Linked DNA regions of Homo sapiens: region 1 is linked to region 2. Evidence: fine-mapped expression QTL. A gene starts in region 2. The other region holds a variant in brackets. All regions are shown on one strand. Distances are between the middles of the regions.

Evidence for each region. PIP is the estimated chance that this variant, and not a neighbour inherited with it, causes the effect. A credible set is the group of variants that fine-mapping cannot tell apart.
Region 1: its variant is the best candidate, but not a certain one, in a credible set for the expression of ZXDC in monocytes after Pam3CSK4 (Quach 2016, PIP 0.77).

What each region holds. Positions count from the first base shown.
Region 1 is chr3:126,451,026-126,456,406 of GRCh38, forward strand. The region is part of intron 7 of ZXDC (ZXD family zinc finger C); the gene reads right to left. Among named protein-coding and RNA genes, the nearest start is that of ZXDC, 22 kb to the right of the region's middle. The variant A/AT (reference allele first, on the strand shown) is at 3,039.
Region 2 is chr3:126,473,812-126,479,192 of GRCh38, forward strand. It overlaps ZXDC (ZXD family zinc finger C), which reads right to left and starts at 2,080. Exons shown (of 10, transcript NM_025112.5): 1 at 1,148-2,080. The coding sequence starts at 2,054. RefSeq lists an enhancer at 427-952 and silencers at 1,510-1,769, 1,840-2,349.

The DNA.
Region 1 (5,381 bases), 23 kb before region 2:
GAAAGGAAAGGGACTCAAGGCCACTCCTCATCACCACCTGAGTCCCTCAGGCCCACCAGGCCACCCCAGGAGGAACAGTGCTCTATTGCTCACCATTTTGATGGTAGCTCCATCTTCATGTTTTAATTACACAAAGTATTTTCCAATAGAAAAAGTAGAAATGATCATAATAAAACATTCACAATCTTAACACTCAGGAAAACACCACTTCATGCATGCATATGTGTACTACTGCTTGTTTCCAGGTAAATGTACACAAAAATTTGTCTCTCAACACACCCACTTTTTCTTACAAATATGAACTTACTGAAAACATGCACAGAGTGTACAGTTCTTCTGGACATTTGAGTTACAAATATTATAAACAGTCCCGCACTGAGCAGCAGCAGCATGTGCAGCTTCACACAGATCCCTGGGATTTCCTTGAGATAAATTCAAAAAATGTAATTGTAAGACTGAATATTATGCATATTTTTTGGCTCCTGAACACATTACCAAATGACCCTCCAAAAACATCACAGAGTGTCCCCAGTGAAGCTCTCCTGAGAAAGCACAAGGACGCGCTGTGTGCACCAAGGCCGGCACTGGGCTCCTGTCACCTGGGAAGGCCTAGCCGACCTGGCCCTCAGTCAGATCTACCAATGTCCTTGTGAGCACCAACCGGCTGTGTCTCGCTCGTTGCCATCCTCCTCATGACCTTCTGCACCATGATCTCACGCTGTTACTGGTGATCTGGAAAGCTCTCTGTGCGGACGTGTCTCTGTGGCTGTGCCTCTGCTGATACACTCTGGGAAATGATTTAACCTTGGGGCCTCAGTGGCACCCGTGCAGGAAGGGTTGATGGCAGGTCTCCACCTCATAGGGTTTTTGTGAGGCGTGAACAGAGTTACTGCATGTGAAGGACACACGACAAAAAGAACAAGGGCAGGCTGCCCCCACAGCTCTTCATGCCTTAGAAAAACCTTTAACCTCTCATCTTCATTCTTTATTCTGTATGGAATTCTAATATTTTTTTTTCCCTAAAAGGCCAGCATTCACCTGTCAATAACTGGAAATGCCATCTTTTCCACACGCAAAGATGACCAGGTCCCAGGTCGGTGCCCAGTGCGCTGGATCCTGGGCTCCTGGCTCTGCCACGCAGCCCCAGCACCAGAACATGCTTTCAGCTGCCACAGCCTTGCGTGAAGTCTTAGCTACAGTGCAAATCCTCTATGTCATTTTCCGTTTTCTTAGACGTTCTTGTCCATAGCTTCTTACACAATTGTCCTGGAACCTGCTTGGACTTCTGCATGAAATCGCACTACAATGCTGTGGGAAGAGTGAGAGGCTTCTCTTTCCTTCATCCCACGTCTGTCAGCCAAGCCTGTGGGCTCTGCCATCGAGACAGGTGCAGGAGCCGAGCACTCCTCCCCACTGCTGTTGCCACTCTCGTTCCTAACAGGTGAGCACACAGGCTTCCAACTGCTCTCCCTGAAACCTCCCATCCATTTTGTAAATCAAATACAGGATTTGTTGAGAGAATAATAAAGTTATTCACCGATCTATTATTGAGATAATGCAATTAACAGATTTCGTAACATTAAATCATTCTCAAGCTATCTGATTAAGCTCCATTTGGTCAGAATAGTACATTAAATATATATATTGCCAGATCCTAAGTGTGTTTTATTTAGAACATTTCCATCTATCTTCGTAAGAGTCACCAATCTGCAGTTTTTCTTTTTTTTTTTTTTGAGACAAGGGTCTTACTGTCACCCAGGCTAGAGTGCAGTGGCAGATCCTAGCTCACGACAACCTCCATCTCCTGGGCTCAAGCGATTCTTCCGCCTCAGTCTCCCCAGTAATTGGGACCACAGGTGTGCACCACCACGCGTGGCTAATTATTATTTTTTTTACAGATGGGGGTCTTACCACGTTGCCCAGGCTGGTCTTGAACTCCTGGCCTCAAGCAATACTCCCACCTCAGCCTCCCACAGTGCTGGGATTACAGCTCTCTTTCTGAGAGATACCCTTGTCAGATTTTTCATGGGAAGCTTCTGTTTTCCACAGAGCTTTGGAGCAGCATTTACTGCACAAATTCCACAAAGGGGGAGAACTGAGGAACTATTCATATTCTTATTTCTGAATGATTACTTGTTTTCCTAGAAAACTCTGCATTTTGTTGCAAGTATTCTAACTTATTATCATACAGTTAACATGATATCTGTTTATCTCTAGGTATTCCAAAGAATTTGTGGAATTTACTTAATGCTTTTTTTAATTGCTCAGACAGAAAAGGAAAATGAGGGCCTAGGGGCCATATCCCCTTAAGGATATGTTTTCTTTGGCCCATACCAAAAGTTTTTCTAAATCTGAATAAGCTGTCACATTTAAGCATCAAAATCTGGATTTGACTCTGTTCTGATAGGAAGACATCTGAGGCACAAACTTGCATTTAGTTTTGGCTACATCCCTTGTGTTCCATATACAGTAATACATAATAGTTGGCTTACACATCAAGTGTTTCTAAGACCCTCACATGTAATCCACAAGAATCCCAAGTGCAGCGTGCTTCTATTACCATTTCACAAAGGAGAAAGCTGAACGTGCAGGGAAGTCACTGGCTCAAGAGCTCAAACTTATAAACACATGGCCTATCCATTTTCCTGTATTTGTAATTAGCTTTTATTTTTTTTCTTTTTTTTTGGCGAAGGAGTTTCGCTCTTGTTGCCCAGGCTGCAGTGCAATGGTGCGATCTTGGCTCACTGCAACCTCTGCCTCCCGGGTTCAAGCGATTCTCCTGCCTCAGCCTCCTGAGTAGCTGAGCTGGGATTACAGGCATGAGCCACCGCGCCCAGCCTCGCTTTTATTTCTTCTTTCACCTGATTGTCTAGAGGTTTTGTTTTCCAAGTAATTTTTACTAATTTAACATATTATGATCAGAAAACATAGTACTGCCTATACATGTATATATATATGTGTACATATAGGCATATATATATATAAGCAGTACTATATATTATGTATATATATAGGTAGTACTACACATATATATATAT[A/AT]TTTTTTTTTTTGGTAAAGACTTTTGTATAGTTTTCCTGATGCCCTAATTTGTTCCATTTAATTTCTATAAATATTCAAAGGACATGGAATAGGATCTGTTAAATCAACTTTATTAATCCCATTTTAAATATCTTTCATATGCTTATTTTTCTGCTTGATCAGCAAATAATGAACTAATCACTTTCAAACTGCTAGTTTCTATACATTCAATTATCTGAGATTTCTATTGGCTTTTACATTGTTTGATATTATACGTTTTCAAATAAATATTCATATAAATGTCTATAGGTCTTATAGTTCTGTTGTAGGCTACACATGAACAGCAACCAAAAAGAGGAAAAATCTTCTTTGTCCCCATGCTTTTTCCTTGAATTCTGCACTTTTCATATTAACATTAGCCCTTGCTTTGTGATTTGCCTTTGCTTTATTTTACCCTGTCTTAATCTTAACCTTCCCAAATATTTCCATACAGGGTGCACCTCTCCTAGACAACACACAGCGGAGAGTGTGCTTCCCATGTATTCAATCTTCGTCTCTTGAAAGGAGAGGTGCCCTCATTACACTTCACTGTGACACAGGATACCCTTGGTTTTCTGTCACAATGTGTCTTGCTGCTGTCTCCTCTGATAAGCACCACACTTTCTTTCCCTTCTCTGCCCTTAGACAGCAGAAAGGTATACATACCCATTTATAGTTCTGAAGCTGTTCACGTTTTTAAGCTTAACTTTGCTATTCATTTCAAGAATAAAACTTGACATTTTTACACTGAGAGAAAAATTCTTGTTTTATTCTAAGGGGAGAATCTCAATACTCAAGATAAAGAAATTCACACATTTTATTTTCTACACTCAACAGCAACACAATGGGAAGAGTCTTGGATTTCAAATGCTATTGCTCAGACTGTACATTTCCTAAGAACTGACGTGTGCACTGGCTCCTAACCACATGCACAACAGCGAAGTCTTGACTGTTTCTAAATGACCCGATTCCATTAACAGTCCTGTTACACTGCAACTGCTGTTCTTGGACTTATTACAGGTCCATAGTCTCTCAATCACAAATGTTGAAACCAAAAAATCCCAAACCCAATTTTTTTTCCCTAAACTTAATGCCAAAAGTAATTTAGCAACATAACTGACCTGAACTGATGTAAAGCTATTTACAGTCTCATTTGATCCCACTTAGATATATTTTGCTGAAAAGTACCAATGTAGTAACTAGTGGTATTAATAATATATGTACCATATTATCTAAAATTTGAAATAGCCTGAATCCAAAGCACAGCGTGGGTTAACATACATAAATACTAGCACTGACCACTGAAACCCTAGTATAACAAAACCCCAGTAACAATAAGTCCACCGAGTGTCTGCATGTTGGATTCTATATACCATCCTCTAACAAAAGAAACCAGGGCTCTCTGGAGGAGGAGTCGATTCCAGGGCAGGGACAGGGATAATACAAGAGCCTGGTGGTGCTAGGAAGGAAGGAAGTGCTCAAAACAAAAAGCCAGGATGGAGAATGTTGATGGGGCACAAGAATCCAACTGAAGGATTGGCCACAGCTGGAAGAACTGGAGCAACAAAATAAATGGTGATAATATTGATCATAATCCAATACTGACTACAGCCCAAAGAATCAATATCGTTGAGGCCGGGCATGGTGGCTCACGCCTGTAATCCCAGCACTTTGGGAGGCCGAGGCGGGCGGATCACAAGGTCAGGAGATGGAGACCATCCTGGCTAATACGGTGAAACCCCCGTCTCTACTAAAAATACAAAAAAAAAAAATTAGCTGGGCACGGCAGCGCCTGTAGTCCCAGCTACTCGGGAGGCTGAGGCAGGAGAATGGCGTGAACCTGGGAGGCGGAGCTTGCAGTGAGCCGAGATCGCGCCACTGCTCTCCAGCCGGGGCGACAGAGCAAGACTCCATCTCAAAAAAAAACAAAAAAAAAAGAATCAGTATCATTGAATCCATACTGCGAATAAGTAAATGAGGGAGAAGAGACAGCTCTTCCTTATAAAATTAATAAGTACACAAGAATAAGGGAAATGGAAAATCACCATTAAACCCCACAGGCAAAAAGCCCCTGCTGAGTGTTACATGAGAGGAAAGCTTAAAGAGAAACAGGGCACTTGCAGTGCAAGGCAAAGGGTTAACCCTGCCAGAGAGGCCTCGCCTCTGCCCCCAGCTCCTGGGAGATCTCTAGACCCTTGGAAAGTCCTGCCTGGTAAGAATGTCTGTCTAACTGGGTGCCCTGGGCCACTTCCACAGTCTGTGCTAACCCTGTGGTGGAGGCCTCGGGCACACAGCGCCAGCTCAGCCTCTGGAGGGCTGGAGAC
Region 2 (5,381 bases):
TTTCTGTTTGAATGACTGGTCCTTCCTCCTGGGCCCTCACCACAGACCACAATCCCCACCTGGGCTCTGCCACCCAGCCGACTCCATTCTTCTGCCTTTCCAGGGAGGAATCCTTTCTTGCCCTTCTGGAGGAACCCTATCCCTGTGAAAGCAGGGAAAGCTGCCCATCCTGGTGAAGAGCTCACTGTGTTGGAGTCCTACATTCCCAACAACTGCAGGTCAACACACAGGAGAAAGAACAGGCAGTGGACTTTTTTTTTTTTTTTTTTTTGAGACGGTGTCTCGCTCTGTCGCCCCGGCTGGAATGCAGTGGCGCGATCTCGGCTCACTGCAAGCTCCGTCTCTGGGGTTCACACCATTCTCCTGCCTCAGCCTCCCGAGTAGCTGGGACTACAGGCGCCCGCTACCACGCCCGGCTAATTTTTTGTAGTTTTAATAGAGACGGGGTTTCACCGTGTTAGCCAGGATGGTCTCGATCTCCTGACCTCGTAATCCGCCCGCCTCGGCCTCCCAAAGTGCTGGGATTACAGGCGTGAGCCACCGCGCCCAGCCACCAGCAGTGGACTTTATCCACAAGGCTCGGCCTCTGTCTCTTCATCTGTAAAAGAGGACAGTTTTTAACCTTCACAGACGGCTAATTTTTAAAACTTCACAAAACTGTGAGGTTCAACGGAAATCAAAGTGCAAAAGGCAAAAAAAGCCAGGATGTGCGCACACCTGTGGCTATCCTCCCAGCGTGTTAAGGTCCTGAATCTGGCCACATTCATCTCTGCTCCTCTAGCACGGAGTGTGCACCCCGTAAACAAATGACGAGACTGAGGAAAATAAAGACCTGACACATAGCTCCGTGCCACTCTGTGAAGATGCGTGCCGCTTTCATCAAGCACAAGCAGGTTAAGGATATCTGTTGCCGCCACCTTTGGGAAGCGCAGCTGTGGTGATCTGCGCTACCTGCCATCGGAATCCCTGCGGCAGGGCAGGGCCAAGATCTCAAATCGAATGACATGGAAGGAGCTAGAATACAAATCCCGAAGAGCCTGCGTCCCCGGCTTGCTAAGGTCTGGCAGGCCCCTCTGTGGGGCGGACGTGGCACCCCAGACCTGCCTGCAACACCGCGCAGCCCGCCCGCCCCCGAGAGCGCGGTTACCGGGAAAGTCACACTTGTAAGGGCGCTCGGGCTCGAAGTGGCTGCGCTGGTGGGAGCTGAGCTTGGCGTGCGTGGGGAAGCGCTCGGCGCACACCTCGCACTTGAACAGGCTCTCCTGCTCGTGGCCCTTCATGTGCGCCTTGAGGTTATAGACCGTAGTGAACTTCTTGCCACAGCCGCCCACTGGACAGCCGAAGGGCCGCAGCTTGTCGTGCGACTGCAGGTGCCGCTTGAGCTTGTAGGACGTTGTGAAGGCCCAACCACAGCCCTCCAGTGGGCACTTGAAGGGCCGCCGGCCCTGACCGCCGCCGTGCGTGAGCAGGTGCACCTTGAGCTGGTGCTTCTTGGCGAAGGCCAGCGCGCACTGCGGCTCGGGGCAGCGGTAGCCGGGCGTGCTGGGGCCGGAGGCCTGGGGCGCGCGGCGGGGAGCGGCGGCGCCCGCGGTTGCGGGGCCGGGCGGCGCAGACAGCGCGAGGACGCCGCGGTCGAGACGCACCAGCAGGTCCTGGCTGCTGATGGTGACGGCGCCCGCCGGGGCTACGCCAGGGCCGGGGGGGGCGGCCGGGCCGCTGGGGCCCTGCTCGGGGCGGCTCGCCAGGTTGACACGGGAGCCAGGCTCGGCCTCCTGTGATCCGGCAGCCTCGGCGGCAGCGCCGCCGTGCGGCACTTCCAGCAGCACCAAGAAAGAGTCGCCGTCGCTGTCGTCCTCGGCGGGCGGCGGGCTTGGCCCGGAGGCCTCCCCGGGCCGCGCCCCGGGCCCGCCATCTTCAGGGCCCCGCACCAGTAGCAGGCGGCGGCGCGCGGGGCTCGCGCCGAGCGGCGCTGGGGCTCGGCGGAGCGGGCCGGGGCCGCCGCCATGTTGCCCTCCGCGCGCAGTCGGGGCGGGGAGCAGCGCCGGGAGGTCCATCTTGGTCCCAGCGACGGCGTCGGAGCAGCTTCGGACGCAGAGCTGCCCGCGCCCCGCCCAGGTGTGCGTGCGCCGCCCCGGGACGCGATCCGCGCCAAGCCCCGGCGTAGAGTCCGGCTCGGAACCGCGCGTGCGCGGACGCCGCCGGGCGATGCGCGAGGCCTGCTGGGCTGACGTGACGTGAGGCTGGGCTGCGGGGCGCCGGAGGCGGAGGCGGGGGCGGGGCGCCGGGACCGACTAGGGCGGGGCGCGGGGTCGGGGGGCGGGGCGCGGGGTCGGGGGGCGGGGCGCGGGGTCGGGGGGCGGGGCGCGGGGTCGGGGGGCGGGGCGCGGGGTCGGGGGGCGGGGCGCGGGGTCGGGGGGCGGAGCGCCGGCACCTACGAGGGCGAGCGGCGGGGCACGGGACCGACAGGGGACGGGGTGAGGCTCCCAACGCTGAGCGATTCCTTCTCGTTCCCGCTGGCGTGGAAGACGAGGCTTGTCTTGACTTCGAATCGTATTAATATTTCAGACACTTAACAGGCAACCTCTCGTAGGCATTGACTGCGTCCCAGGGGCTGTACCTGTCCGAGCTGATTAAGCGTGCGCGGTCACCCAGGGGTGAGGAAACAGGGACGGCGAGCTCGAGTCACTCGGCAGCCGGCAGATCCAGGATTCGAACCTGTCCAACAGGCCGGACGCCTACCCCCAGCTCACTTAAGTGCAAGCTCGCCTGCCGCCGCTGGCGCACAGACCTCGTTTGCTTTGGCCCAGGTCCTTGCTCGGCACACGGGGCCTCCCTGATACGCAGGACCCCTGCCTGTATTTCCAACTGTATTTCCTACTAAACTTGGCACAACCTCACTCTGCAACAGCTTAATTACTTACTGTTTCCGGTCCTCACCCTCCCCCACCTCACCGTACACCTCCGCATTCAATCTGGACTCCTCCACTTCAACTTCACCACCACTCAGATCCAAACCCGCACTTTATTCCTGGGTACCTGAAAAATAACTACTAGCTGGTCATCGGTCTCCCTCCGCTCCACTCGCTCCCATCCACGGGGCACCGTTTTATGATCTAAAAATTGCACATCAAATTATGCTCACCTCCACCTTGCTCCCGAAGGCGCCTATGGCCTTGCTAGTCTACCCTCCCCTACCTGTTTGCCCTCACTTCCCGCCACTCTCCCGCTGCCCCCCCCACCCCTCCCCCGCACCCCACCTCTTTTTCCCAGTTCATCCAGCAAGCCAAGCTGGTTCCAGCCTCAGAGACTTGGCGCAGCTGATCTCTGATTCCTCTGGGAGGACTCTGCGCCCCTTCTGATCCAAAGCACATGCTTACCCAGTCCCGTATTCCCACCTCTGTCTGATCTGTTTGCTCTTAGAGCTCTCATCACCCGTTGTTTTGTTGAGTTCCTTCCCTGCTCCTTCACTGTCTCTCCCTCTCTGGAATGTAGGCTCCTGGAGCCCAGGAACTGTGTCCTATTCACTGTGTGTGCCCAGGAAGACTCTTGGTGCATATTTGTTAAATACATGAATGCTTTATTATTAAGAGTATTTTTTTAAGTAACACAAATTATAATATTAAAAAGAATAGGATACATCTATTATATATATCAGTTTATGCCGAAAACATATTGTTCCTAGACCATTCAGTAGAGGAAAGAATAGTCATTTCAATAATGGCGGCACTGGGACAACTGGATCTCCACATGCAAAAGAACCAATTTGGACGTGTATCTCTCATCAGAGGCAAAAATTAACTCAAATTAGAGCAAAAGCCTACACGTAAGACATAAAACTATTTGAAGAAAAGTAGGTGTAAATCTATGTGACCCTGGATTAGGGAATAGTTTCTTAGATATAATATTGAAAGCACAAGAAAGAAAAATAGATAACTTGGACTTCATCAAAATTAAAAACTTACTCAGGTAAAAGGACACCAATAAGACAGTGAAAAGACAACTCAGAATGGGAGAAGGGTGTGCAAATCGAATATCTGATAAGGATCTACTATCTGGAATATATAAAGAACTCTTAGCAAGAAGACAAACAGTCCACTTTTTTAAAAGGCAAAGGTTTGAATAGACATATTTCTCCAAAGAAGATAATACAAACAGCCAATAAGCAAATAAAAAGAGGCTCAACATCACGAATCATTAGGGAAATGCAAATCAAAACACAGTGAGATACAACTTCACACCTACTCAAATAGTGGTAATTTTTTTAAAAACAGGATATAGAAAAATTGGAACTCTCACATATGGCTGGTGGGAATGTATAACGTTGCGGTGTGGAAAACAGTTTGGCAGTTCTGCAGAAAGCTAAACATAATCTCCACATGACCCAGCAAGTCCATCCCTGTGTTGCTGAGGCTGGAGTGTGGTGGCTATTCACAGGTGCAATCATAGTGCGACCTCCAACTGGCCTCAAGCAGTCCTTCCGGGTCAGCCTCCCAATTAACTGGACTACAGGCATATGCCACCATGCCCAACTTGTTGCGCAGCATTGATTATGCCACATTCTCGTGATCAAAGAAGTCATAAGACACTGCAGACCCAGGCAAGGGGAACTTGTACTCCACCTCTCAATGGGAGGTGCTGGAAAGAATTTGCAGCCATTTTTAAACTATCACAACTTCTCTGTGCCTCAGTTTCCTCATGTGTAAAATGAAGGGGACTGAGAAAGAAAAAGGGCAGCCCCTGCCATCCAGAAACTGGCCGGGTGCTACAGCTGGGCCACTCTGTTCTGTAAGACTTGAACCATCACGCAGAAAACCAACCTAGGCCAAGGTCACTGAAACACAATGACATGAGACAAAGCAAGGCCACTTCATGATGTGTCTCCACCCAGATAAAGCGAGGTCACTTGCTGTGCCATTTACAAGATACCCAGCAGCCCCTCTCTCAGCTAACGTGAGCAGCCGCCGCTTTTGTACCCCTGACAGCCTGTCTGTCTGTGTGCTTCCCTCTCTGTATATAGGATTTAGTCAGAAACCTAGTCATGGTGTTGACCCGATTTCTGGTAAGAGCCAATCCAGAGCAAATCCCCGCTTCCTAAGACTCCCCCACCCAACCAAAGCTCAAATCTGATACTAGGTTGTTTCAGATACTAGGTTGTTTCAGCCTTCTGCTGAGATACCCTGAAAGGAGCAACAGGACTCCTGGCGAGGGTCAGACGCGCCACTTCACCAGGTGGGCTTGAGTCAGCTCAATGTGGTCATCCAGTGGGGCTCAGGCAGAGACTTGAACTTGGTAGTCTCAAAGGAGTGCCCCAAATTACAAGGACCACAGAGATTGTGCCTTGGCCAGCCAGACCTGTACTCTCCAGGCTGTGTGGAAAGGAT